2 separate regions of the Homo sapiens genome follow, and region 2 is linked to region 1. A link means that fine-mapping ties the variant in region 1 to the expression of a gene that starts in the linked region. Tissue or cell type: whole blood. Region 1 holds a variant in brackets; the other region holds the start of a gene. All regions are shown on one strand. Distances are from middle to middle.

The links.
Region 2: it holds the start of GOLM1, and the variant in region 1 is fine-mapped to the expression of GOLM1 in whole blood (INTERVAL, PIP 0.91).

What each region holds. Positions count from the first base shown.
Region 1 is chr9:86,129,101-86,134,479 of GRCh38, reverse strand. LOC101927623 (a long non-coding RNA gene) reads right to left here. Exons shown (of 5, transcript NR_110996.1): 2 at 5,152-5,250. It also overlaps the pseudogene LOC100287212. Among named protein-coding and RNA genes, the nearest start is that of GOLM1, 32 kb to the right of the region's middle. The variant T/C (reference allele first, on the strand shown) is at 3,010.
Region 2 is chr9:86,097,063-86,102,441 of GRCh38, reverse strand. GOLM1 (golgi membrane protein 1) reads left to right here and starts at 2,884. Exons shown (of 10, transcript NM_016548.4): 1 at 2,884-3,031. RefSeq lists silencers at 2,673-2,992, 3,003-3,102, 3,263-3,312 and an enhancer at 2,943-3,443.

The sequences.
Region 1 (5,379 bases):
TAACAAATGAGAATGTAAGCTCCACAAAGGCCAGAATTTCTGTCTGTTTTGTTCATTGCAGCGTCTAAAATAATGCCTGATGAATAGTGAGGGCACAAATATTGGTTGAATGAGTAAATATCACGCTGATTTTGCTGAAGTATTTAAGCAAGTTACAGACATTGTAAAAATAAATGTTTTGGGACGGACGCGGTGGCTCACGTCCGTAATCCCAGCACTTTGGGAGGCCGAGGTGGGCAGATCACGAGGTCAGGAGATCGAGACCATCCTGGCTAACACGGTGAAACCCCGTCTCTATTAAAAACACAAAAAATTAGCCGGGTGTGGTGGCGGGCGCCTGTAGTCCCAGCTGCTCCGGAGGCTGAGGCAGGAGAATGGCGTGAACCTGGGAGGCGGAGCTTGCAGTGAGCCGAGATCGCACCACTGCACTCCAGTTTGGGCAACAGAGCGAGACTCCGTCTCAAAAATAAATAAATAAATAAAATAAAAATAAAATAAATGTTTTGGCCACAAGCATACTTACTGTAACAGTAATAAAAAATATGCTTGAACTACATACTCCTTAATTTTAGGGGGCTCAAGAGTTTAAAGGAAAGGGGGAGATATCCAAGTAAGAGAGCATGCATGCTAACTTTCCAATAGCTGGATGTTATCTACTTTTCTTAAGACTATATCAACCTGTTGATCATGACCTGTCTTTTCATAAGAGTCCCACTTAATCTAAAAATTAGGCTGGAACTTAGAGCCAATAAATACATTATGGGCCTGCATTTCCTGTATATCTTTTGTATTATAGCCTCCATGCCGTCTAAGAGCACTTTGTTCCTTCTCTCAAAATGCTTCCCCGCTTTTAAATAATTTACTTTTGAATTAATAAAAACATCACCTTATTAATCATCATATTATTTGCATCATATTAAACCCTGATCAGCCCTTAAAATGTTAAAGAAAAGACATTACTATGTTTCTTAATGAATACACAAAATCCTTCAGTACAAATACTTTTATATTCAGCCCCTGTAAAACCATCAGCTGTTGGAAACGTTTTTAAACATGAACCAAAGGGTCTAGTTTTAACAACTTAGCTATGAGTGGGTGAAATCCTACCCATTTCATAGAGTTCTCCAAATTAATAACAATATATATTAGTCTATTCTCACGCTGCTATAAAGAACTGCCTGAGAATGGGTAATTTATAAAGAAAAGAGGTTTAATTGACTCACAATTCCACAGGGCTGGGGAGGCCTCAGGAAACTTACAATCATGTTGAAAGTGGAAGCAAATATGTCCTTCTTCACATGGCAGCAGGAAGGAGAAGAATGAGAGACAAGCGAAGGGGGAAGCCCCTTATAAAACCATCAGATCTCATGGGAACTCATTCACTGTCACGAGAACAATTACCTCCACCTGGTTCCACCCTTGACACATGGGGATTATTACAATTCAAAATGAGATTTTGGATGGGGACACAGCCAAACCATATCACAGTGTAAAATAAAAGGATGGTCCCTTAGAGCTTTGAAATTCTTCTACTGACAGTCCTATCTTCTTTATTCAAGAAGTATGTAGTCATTTTCAGAATTCACTCCAGGGCCAACTTCTTAATGTAGATGTCAGTAAATCAGTGATGGCAAAAGGTATGCAAAGAAGAAAACCACATCAGAAAGGATGCAAAGCCAGAGATCCAACCAGCCGGGGTGTTGGGGAAGCCCGTTTGCCCCGGACTGAGGCTGCACATCGAGGTTCTGCTGCTATCTCCCAGCCTTGCTCAAGCCTTGCCACTTCCAGGGACCATCTCAACCATCTACAACCGGTGCGGCCACCTTCATCTCACTGCAACTTCGTTGCAACCCTAGTCTCTGTCTTATTTTGACGAATGTCAGCATTTGCTGTTTTCTTCTCCATCCAAATACAAAGCTGTTCACTTCTTCTCCTGGTCTCATTTTCCACGCTTGTTCAGCTTTCTCCCTTGTTGGATTTTCCCTACTGCCTTCAATAATCATAGATGTACATACAGTGGATATCTATGTATCTGATGGCTGGAAATTCTAGAGTACTAACATTTGCAAACAGTGATAAAAGCTGGAATTTATTTTGAAGGGAAAATTTCCATCAGTTCAAGGAGGAATCACATTGGTGAGCCCTTTTAGTCACATGGATATAAATGAAGCTTCTACACAAAAGTAGGTGCTGTCTACTGAGACATTAAGCATGCACTGTAATTGGTATGTTTTGAAAGGCCATCCTTGTTATGGACTGGCATGGCTCTGCAGAGATTACTGGGTTGTTTAGCAATTTTGGAGGGTGGGCCAGAGAGTAGCAGAATGAGAGAGGGGGACTCCTAAGGAAGAAGGAGAGGTGCTGGCCCCAGCATTGCAGTAGCAGGAAAGGGGGAAGAAGGGATAAGTACCCCTGAAGAGACATGGCCCACTGACTTCCAGAGCTAGGATATCTGATGTCCAGTGTTAAACTTTTCTTTTCTGTATTTTTAGTTTGTGAGTGGAGTTGGTTATAGCTAACAATGTTGTATTCTTGGTGCCTTAGGGGAAAAAGAGAAATAAAGGCCTGTGCCCCTACTTTGGAAGGAAGCAAACCCATTGTATCAGTGAGACAGCCACAATATCAGTAAGGATTAGGTTCACTTGCAAGTGAAAGGTAATGGAATATGACAACATTTCAATAATGTAAACAAAGTCCAAAGTCAAACAGCCTAGGACTGGTGTGGGGACTCCATGACCATCAGGAACCTGGGGTCCTTTTATTCTGTTGCTCCACCATCTTCAACATGTCACATCCACCTAGGGTCCAAAATGACTACCTGACTGACAGCTGCCAGGTCACATTCTCAGGAAGGGGGAAGGCAGTGAAGAAGGTTACTCCCCCATGTTTGAGGGATAGCTCCTCAAGCCCCACATGATATCTCCATATCTAATTGACCAGAACATACTCCCATGACAGCATCTAGCTGCAACAGAGGCTGGAAGATGTAATTTTTATTTTGGATGCCCA[T/C]GTGTTCAATTAAAAACCAGAAAAACCAGAAGTTCTATTAGTACAGAAGGGAAGACTGATGTCAGCACTGTGGTATACATAGTAATCCCCCTCCCCCAGAGTGTTCATGCCCTAATCCCAGGACCTGTGAATATGTTATTTTACATGGCAAAAGGGACTTTGCAGGAGTGATTAAAATATGTATCTTGAGATGGGGAGATTTTCTCATATTATCTGGTGGACCCAATGCCATCACATGAACCCTTAAAAGCAGAGAATGCTTCCTGGCTGTAGTCAGAGGGAAACATGATGACAGAAGGAAGGAACAAAAAATGCAACGTTGCTGGCTTTAGCAAATGGAAGGGGACCCTGAGCCAAGGCATACAGGTGCCCTCTAGAAGCTGGAGGAGGTAAAAGACCAGATTCTTCCCTAGAGGCTTCAGAAGGAATACAGTCTTGCTGACGCCTTGATTTGAGCCCAGTGAAACCCATGTCAGACTTCTGACCTACAGAATTGTAAGATAATAAATTTGTGTTGTTCTAATCCACTAAATATGTGGTAATTTATTATAGCAGCGTAGGAAACTAAATCAGGCATACAACCTGCATTCAGAGTCTCTGCTACAGCCATGCAGGCATCAGAGTTATCCAGGGATGGCCAGAGGCGGGAGAAACCCAGAGCACACATCCACAGCAAGAAGTGGAAAACAACAACAAATGAATGTATAGAAATTCGCAGACTCACCAGGATCCTTAGAAGTGATCCCGGGCTTTCTGAAGAATGAGGCCTGCATTGTTACTATTTAAGTATTAAAGGAAAGGATGACTCTCCCTTCTTGCATAATGCAAAGCTAGTTATATTACCCCCTCTCATCCTCAAAATCTGTATTCTTAGACAGAGAACTGTGGCAGGAAATAGATGTTAACTATCTAAAGAACGCGGGTGGTGTGGTGGGAAGCTAAGGCTAAAGGACCCAGATTTCATCCATCCATCCATCCATTCATTCATTCAGTACCTACAGAGTATTTATAAAGTCTGGAAACAGATTTTACAAGTTGCAGATGTCCTTGATGACACTGTGCACGTTTGCCTATGTGTTCAGACTTTGTGGACATCTTGCTGTGTGCCCAAGAAAGCGGTGAAGCAGAGAGTTGGGGGCCTGCCTGCAAGGAGCTTACAGTCTACCAGGAGGGCAAACAACTAACTGAGTGATGGCTCAAGAGAAGGAGGAGCTTCACATGACGGATGCATGCTCACTAGTTCAGAACATGGCTCAGCACTTACTATAGTCTGACCTTGAGCAAATTTTTTTTTTTTTTTTTTTTTTAGATGGAGCCTTCCTCTGTCACCCAGGCTGGAGTACAGTGGCACAATCTCAGCTCACTGCAACCTCCACCTCCCGGATTCAAGCAATTCCCTGCCTCAGCCTCCCAAGTAGCTGTGATTACAGGCATCTGCCACCACGCCTGGATAATTTTTGTATTTTTAGTAAAGATGGGGTTTCACCATCTTGGCCAGGCTGGTCTTGAACTCCTGACCTCATGATCCACCCGCCTCAGCCTCCCAAAGTGCTGGGATTACAGGTGTGAGCCACTGCACCCAGCTGACCTTGAACAAATTACTTCTCTGTGCCTTTATTGTAGAAAACAACTTCTAGAATTGTTGCTAGGATTCAATGAGTTAACACACACATAGAACAGCTCCTAGCACATAATAAGCAGCTAAATACTTATTAGCTACTACTATAATTGGTACCAGCCATGTGACCTGGAGAGTGGGCTTCATTTCCTCATACCTCCCGGGGTCTGCCAGGTCAGATGCAATAATGGGTGTAAAAGACATTTATGTACTGTTAAGGTACATCACAAAATGTATAGTATCATCACCACAGATTTAGTTACTTCTAATGTTGATTGTTTACTGTCCCTACAGGTAAGCTTACAATGTAGGAATCTTTTTGTCTTCTGTCACTGATGCATCCTGACCTCCAAAAACAGTGCCTGGTACATAAAGCACTCAATAGAGAGTTGTTGAATTTCTTGAATGGATCAATAAATTAATGAACAACTAAATAAGTGATCCTGGCTGTCTGAGTCAGTTCAAATGGCCATAACAAAATATCACAGATTAGGTGGCTTAAGAAACAGAAATTTATTTCTTACTCTCCTGGAGGCTGAAGTCCAAAATCAAGGCACTGGCCATTTTGGTCCCTGGTGAGGGCTCTCTTCCTGGCTTGCAGGTGGCTGCCTTCTTTGTGTGTCCTTACATGGCAGAAAGACAGACAGAAAGAGAGAGGGACAGGGAGAGATAGTGAGGGCTGGTGTCTCTTCTTACAGGGGCACAAATCTCATCACTAGGGCCCCACTCTTATAACCTCTTTAACCTTAATT
Region 2 (5,379 bases), 32 kb after region 1:
GTTATTTTTTCCCTGTTGGGTTTTGGACTTACTTGGGACCAGTTACCCCTTTATCTTACATATTTCTCCCTTTGGGAATGTGAATACCTATACTGTGCCTGTGCCACCATTGTATTTTGGAAGTAAATAATTTGTTTTAATTTCACAGGCTCATTGCTGGAGGAATTTGTCTTAGGATGAATTGTGCCTTGAATCTTGCTCATATCTGATTTAGATGAGACTCTGGACTTTCTAGTTGGTGCTAGAGTGAAGACCTTAGGGCTGCCAGGTGCAGTGGCTCATGACTGTAGTCCCACCACTCTCGAAGGCTGAGGCAGGTGGATTGCTTGAGCCCAGGAGTTTGAGACCAGCCTGGGCCACATGTCAAAACCTCATCTCTACAAAAAATACCAAAAAAATTAGCTGAGCATGATGGCATACACCTGTAGTCCCAGTTACTCAGGAGGCTGAGGTGGGAGAATCACCTGAGCCCAGGAGGTTGAGGCTGTAGTGAGCCATGATCACACCACTGCACTTCTGCCGGGGGGACAGAGTGAAACCCTGTCTCAAAATAAATAAATAAATAAATAAATATTAAAGCCTTTAGGGCTGTTGGGATGGAATAAATGTATTTTGTATGTGAGAAGGATATGAACTGGGGGTGGTGGGGGGCATAGAAGCAGAATGCTATGGTTTGAATGTGTGCTCCATAAAGCACGTGTTGAAAACTGAATCTCCAGTGCAACAGTGTTGGGAGGTGGGGCCCAAAGGGAGGTGTTTAGGTCATAAAGGCTCCACTCTTATAAATAAATTAATGCCAATTATAGAGGGTTTGAGGCTGCAAGTTCAATTTCACATACACCCTCTTGCCCTTCTGCCTTCCACCACAGGCTGATGCAGCAAGAAGGCCCTTGCAAGATGCCAGCACCTTGATATTAGACTTCCTAGCCTTCAGAACTATGAGAAATACATTTCTTTTCTTTATAAATTACTGAGTCTGTGGAATTGTGTTATAGCAACACAAAATGGACTAAGACATTAAGGAAAGGATGCTTAACAGGCAAAACATGGATGCTTCCTTCAACCAACCACTGTAGCCCCTTGCACATTGTTTAATCAAAACCCATCCAATTGAATTTTCAGGGCCAGCAACTGATTAGCTTTTTTATAAGGAATGTAAATTATGTATATAGATATATATAAAACTGCATCTTAAAATTTTCAACTTTTGTCATAAAGAATCTAACGAAAAGGACTAATTCATCTTCAATTAAAATATAGCTCATTCAGCCAGCTGCCTTAGCACCTAGACATATGGACCTGTTCCATAAAGTGTTTAAGAATCACTGAGTGAGTCGCTAATTAGTTGCTGATAAATGAGAGACTAATGGAGACCCTCCTTAGAGCCAAATGATATAGAAGTTACAGTCCACCAGTCTAAGAATGTAAACTATACTAAGAGAGCTAAAATGGGCAAGAAAGGGAATTTCCTGTACCTGTCCCCGATTATGGTTATTTAAGCTCACTAGAAGATCAAAGTGACACAACTTAAGTCTGCAAAACCAGGGCTGACATCTGATACAGCCTCAGCTTCTGAATGCTTTGGTCTGACCCTACAACAGTTTAACAGTTGCAGATAACAAAAATATCATTTTGGAATATAGTAGAACATTCCTCTAAAGGGGTCATGTATGGTCAGCTTCTAATTCAGCTAAGAGGTTTTAGCTGGTAAAGATACGTTTCCTGCAGTTAAGAAGCTCCATGCTCAGGTAGCAATAGGGTATCTTGATCACCTTTTTTAAGGTGACTCTTTGTTCTGGTTAAAATCAATTTCAGCTGTGAGCATTCCTTTAGGTGTTCATGTATTTACTTGTTTTTTTATTGTGATTTGAGAGAGGCGCAGAGGAAGGAGTTTCCTTTCCCAGACACCAGAGCTAGGAAGACATGAAGACATGATTCTAGGAAAACTGTTCTCAATCTTGGCCGTATACTGTATTAGGATTATCTGGGAAGCTCAAAACAAACAAAAAATATCAAGTTCACTTTGAACTCTGGAAGTGGGACCCTGGTTCCTAAATGCTCTAAAAGCTCCCCAAATAATTCTAATGGATGGCAGGTGCTGCCAGAGTTAAGAACCATTGCTTTAGAATTTTCTAGCATGGTTTCCCTGTAGGTCACTAGTTTTGTGGCATTCTCTCCGGGAGGTACGGCCTCATAGGGCTTCTCAAACATCAGTGCGCCTGAGCGTCATCTGAGGCGCTGTTTCAAATGCAGCTGCCCGGGCTATAAGATCACACCCGAAGGCGTCCGGGAATCTTCACTTTTTCCGTTGCTAGCAGTGGAAGGGTCACAGACCAAACACTAAGGCCTGAGCGGTGACAACCGAGGCGAGATGATGGTCAACAGGGAATGCCTCGTGGGAGAAAAAAGACAATTTTGTGAGTATAAGCCCCCTAAAAACCTGTTTTTCGTTCGCTTCCTTCTCTGGGCAGTTTTGACCCGACGACTTTTATAAAGAAGGTAACGTGAGTGTGGCGCTGGGTGCGGTTGGCTGTTCGGGAACATTCCCTCGGGGCGGAACGTGGGATGGGGGCTCCCCCCAGGTACCCTTTCCCCACAGCCGCTTCCCCGCTCCGCGTCGCTGCTCAGGCGCCAGCTCCCGCGTCGGAAGGGGCGATGGGGTGGCCCGGGGGAAGGGGCAACGCCCAGCGGCGAGAACTGGGCGCACGCTGGCGTTCCTGCTCCCGCCGAGGGGCGGCCACCGGCCGGGGCGCGCGCACCGTGGGGCCGGGAGTCCGCGCGGCCCCGGCAGCCCCTGCCTCGCTTCTCCGCGCTCGCGGCGCCGCCTCCTCCCTTCGCGCCGCCGGCGCTGCTCGGGGGCGGGGCCTTGCCGCTGCGGAGGCCGGAGACGCGGCGGCGCTGGACGCGGAGGCGCTGGGCGCACGGCGCGGAGCCGGCCGGAGCTCGAGGCCGGCGGCGGCGGGAGAGCGACCCGGGCGGCCTCGTAGCGGGGCCCCGGATCCCCGAGTGGCGGCCGGAGCCTCGAAAAGAGGTGAGTGGGCGGCGCGCGGCCCCAGGCTGCCCGAACCGCGGTCCATCGCTTCCTCCCTCCTTTGCCCAGGGCCCGTACCCCGCGCGCCGAGACCTCGCGTCGGTCCCCGGAGCCTCCCCGCGGCTTGCGCCGGGGCTGCAACCTTCGCTGGCTGCGCTCGGGGCTGGCTCCGCACCTTCCTGCACCGAGTAGCCCGCGGCTGCCTGGGCCCCTCGGCTCGCTCCCCAAGACCGGGCGCGCGGCCCCCTTGCCCTGCGATGAGGGGCCTCGCGAGGATTCCCTGCCCTGCAGTCTCAGGCGATGCGGGGCCTGTCTTTTTGTTCTGAGCTTTGTCACGCGCGTCGGCATCCAAAGTCAAAAGCGTGCACCCCCTAAGTCGCACTAGTTCCAGTTCTGCAGCGTGATTTGCACCAGGCGCGGGAGGCTGGCCGAGCCGCGAGTCTCTCGGCTCCCGCCGCCTCTTCCTCCCCTCCAGCCCCAGGCGCGCTCCGGCCGCCCTGGGGTCCACGTTGCCGCTGGGCCTCGTGGCTGGTGACCCCGGAGCTTGGGCTCCGGGTCCTCCCGCCGCGCGTCCAGAGCGCGGCTGCATCCCGTTCTCGTGGATGCTCGGGGTTTTCTCGCATACCTGTGTTTCCACCTTTGCCAACGTGGAGGATCCACACAACTTTGCCCTGCTGTAAAAATCATATCCCATTTAATATTTTTAATGATTTGCTTTTAAGAAACAAAATGTGAAGAATAACAATTTTGATGAAATTTTTTAGCAAAATTTAAGAATTATTATATTTGAAATACCATGATGATGCTGGACAATTTCAGATGTCCCATAGCCAGATTTGCAAAACTAAACTTGTGTGACTTTCACGATTTTGAGGTTTTCTTTGTCTGATTTGGGGTCCCTAGGCCCTACATTATGCACATTATTGAGGAACATTTCTAGGGCTGGATTAGTGAGATACACAATAACCTGATGAAGTATTTAGCAGCGCTTGAGTGGCTTTGTTTAGCTCATGGCCATCAGGTTGGCTCAAATCTCAGTTTTAGTATTTCTGAATTTTGGAGGGCATGGGACAATCTCTTGTCAGTTTTTGTGGGTCTCCAAAGGCATCCTAGCTTCTTCCAGTTGTGTTATAAAAGATGAAGCTAAGCTCATTACTTTCTTTCTTAATAGAAACTAGTAACTTGCTAAGACTTACTGTTTTTAGGCCAGACACTCAATTCTTAAGGTGTCAGTGAACAAAAATTGAATTGTTAGGATGGTTAAAGAAAAGAGGTTAGCTTTTAAGATACATTTTGTTCTCCTATGGAGAGGTTATCCAATTTTCACATTTTTTTTTAAAGTTGGTTTTACAGGAAAACGAAAGAAATGAGAGGAAAGTAGTGCTGAGGGTGGGGCCAGGAAATTGTGGTGACTTGGATATTAAGGGCCAGGGATACCATCTGCTTTCTAATGGCTGGTTTAGGTCCAGTTATTGATGGGAAATGAAAAGATTTTGCATTTACATTCCACCCGCTGTTGTTGTTGTTGTTGAGGGCTGGGCAGAAACAACAGTTAGGACAGCTGACCATAGCAGGCCCAGGGCTACCCGGGTTTATATATATATGGCCACCTTCCCCAGGAAGGAGGGAACTGCTACCCTTATCCTGTGAAAGTGCGAGCTGGCTTTCTGCATTGGAAGTACAGAGGGCAGAACCTGGGGAAAATGCGTCTGCGTGGATCAGTAGGAAGGGTGGAGCATCACTTTAGGCAGGTGTGCTGAGAAGAAGACAGGTGTCAGTTGATGGGCACTATTGGTGGGAGGGAGCTTGAAGGCAGCGTGGTCCCTGAGGTCCAGCCGCCTTTCTCAAAGGACCTGGGGTGGCCATTGGGGGCGGGGGAGCGGTGTTCTGTGCCTTTGGCTTAAATTCTGCAGCATTATTGTTATTACTTGTTTTTTCTTGAAATAAAAAAAAAATAAGTTGCCCTATGAAAAAAGATACATTTCTTTTTCAGTGACGTAATGTGAGAAATAACATTTGTAATTGGGATTTTTTAAAAGCACTTCTGTTTTTGTAAAACAAAACAATTTTTTAAACATTTGTAAAAAAGTAGAAGGAACAGAAGGAATGGTGCTACTATGCTTTTGCTCTCACCTTAGAAAAGGGCGAATGATATTTCACTTGCTCCCCAAAAACTGTTCTTAAAGATCATGGTGGTTTTCTGGACTTCTCACGTTATTGATGAAGTTACATTAAAAGAGAGACTTGTCTCCAAATTTATGAAGTGTTTCTTAAATTTCCAGAGAGTCTTTCCTTTCTTTCACACAGATATTTCTCACACTTTCAGGAAAAAAAAAAAAAAAAGTCCA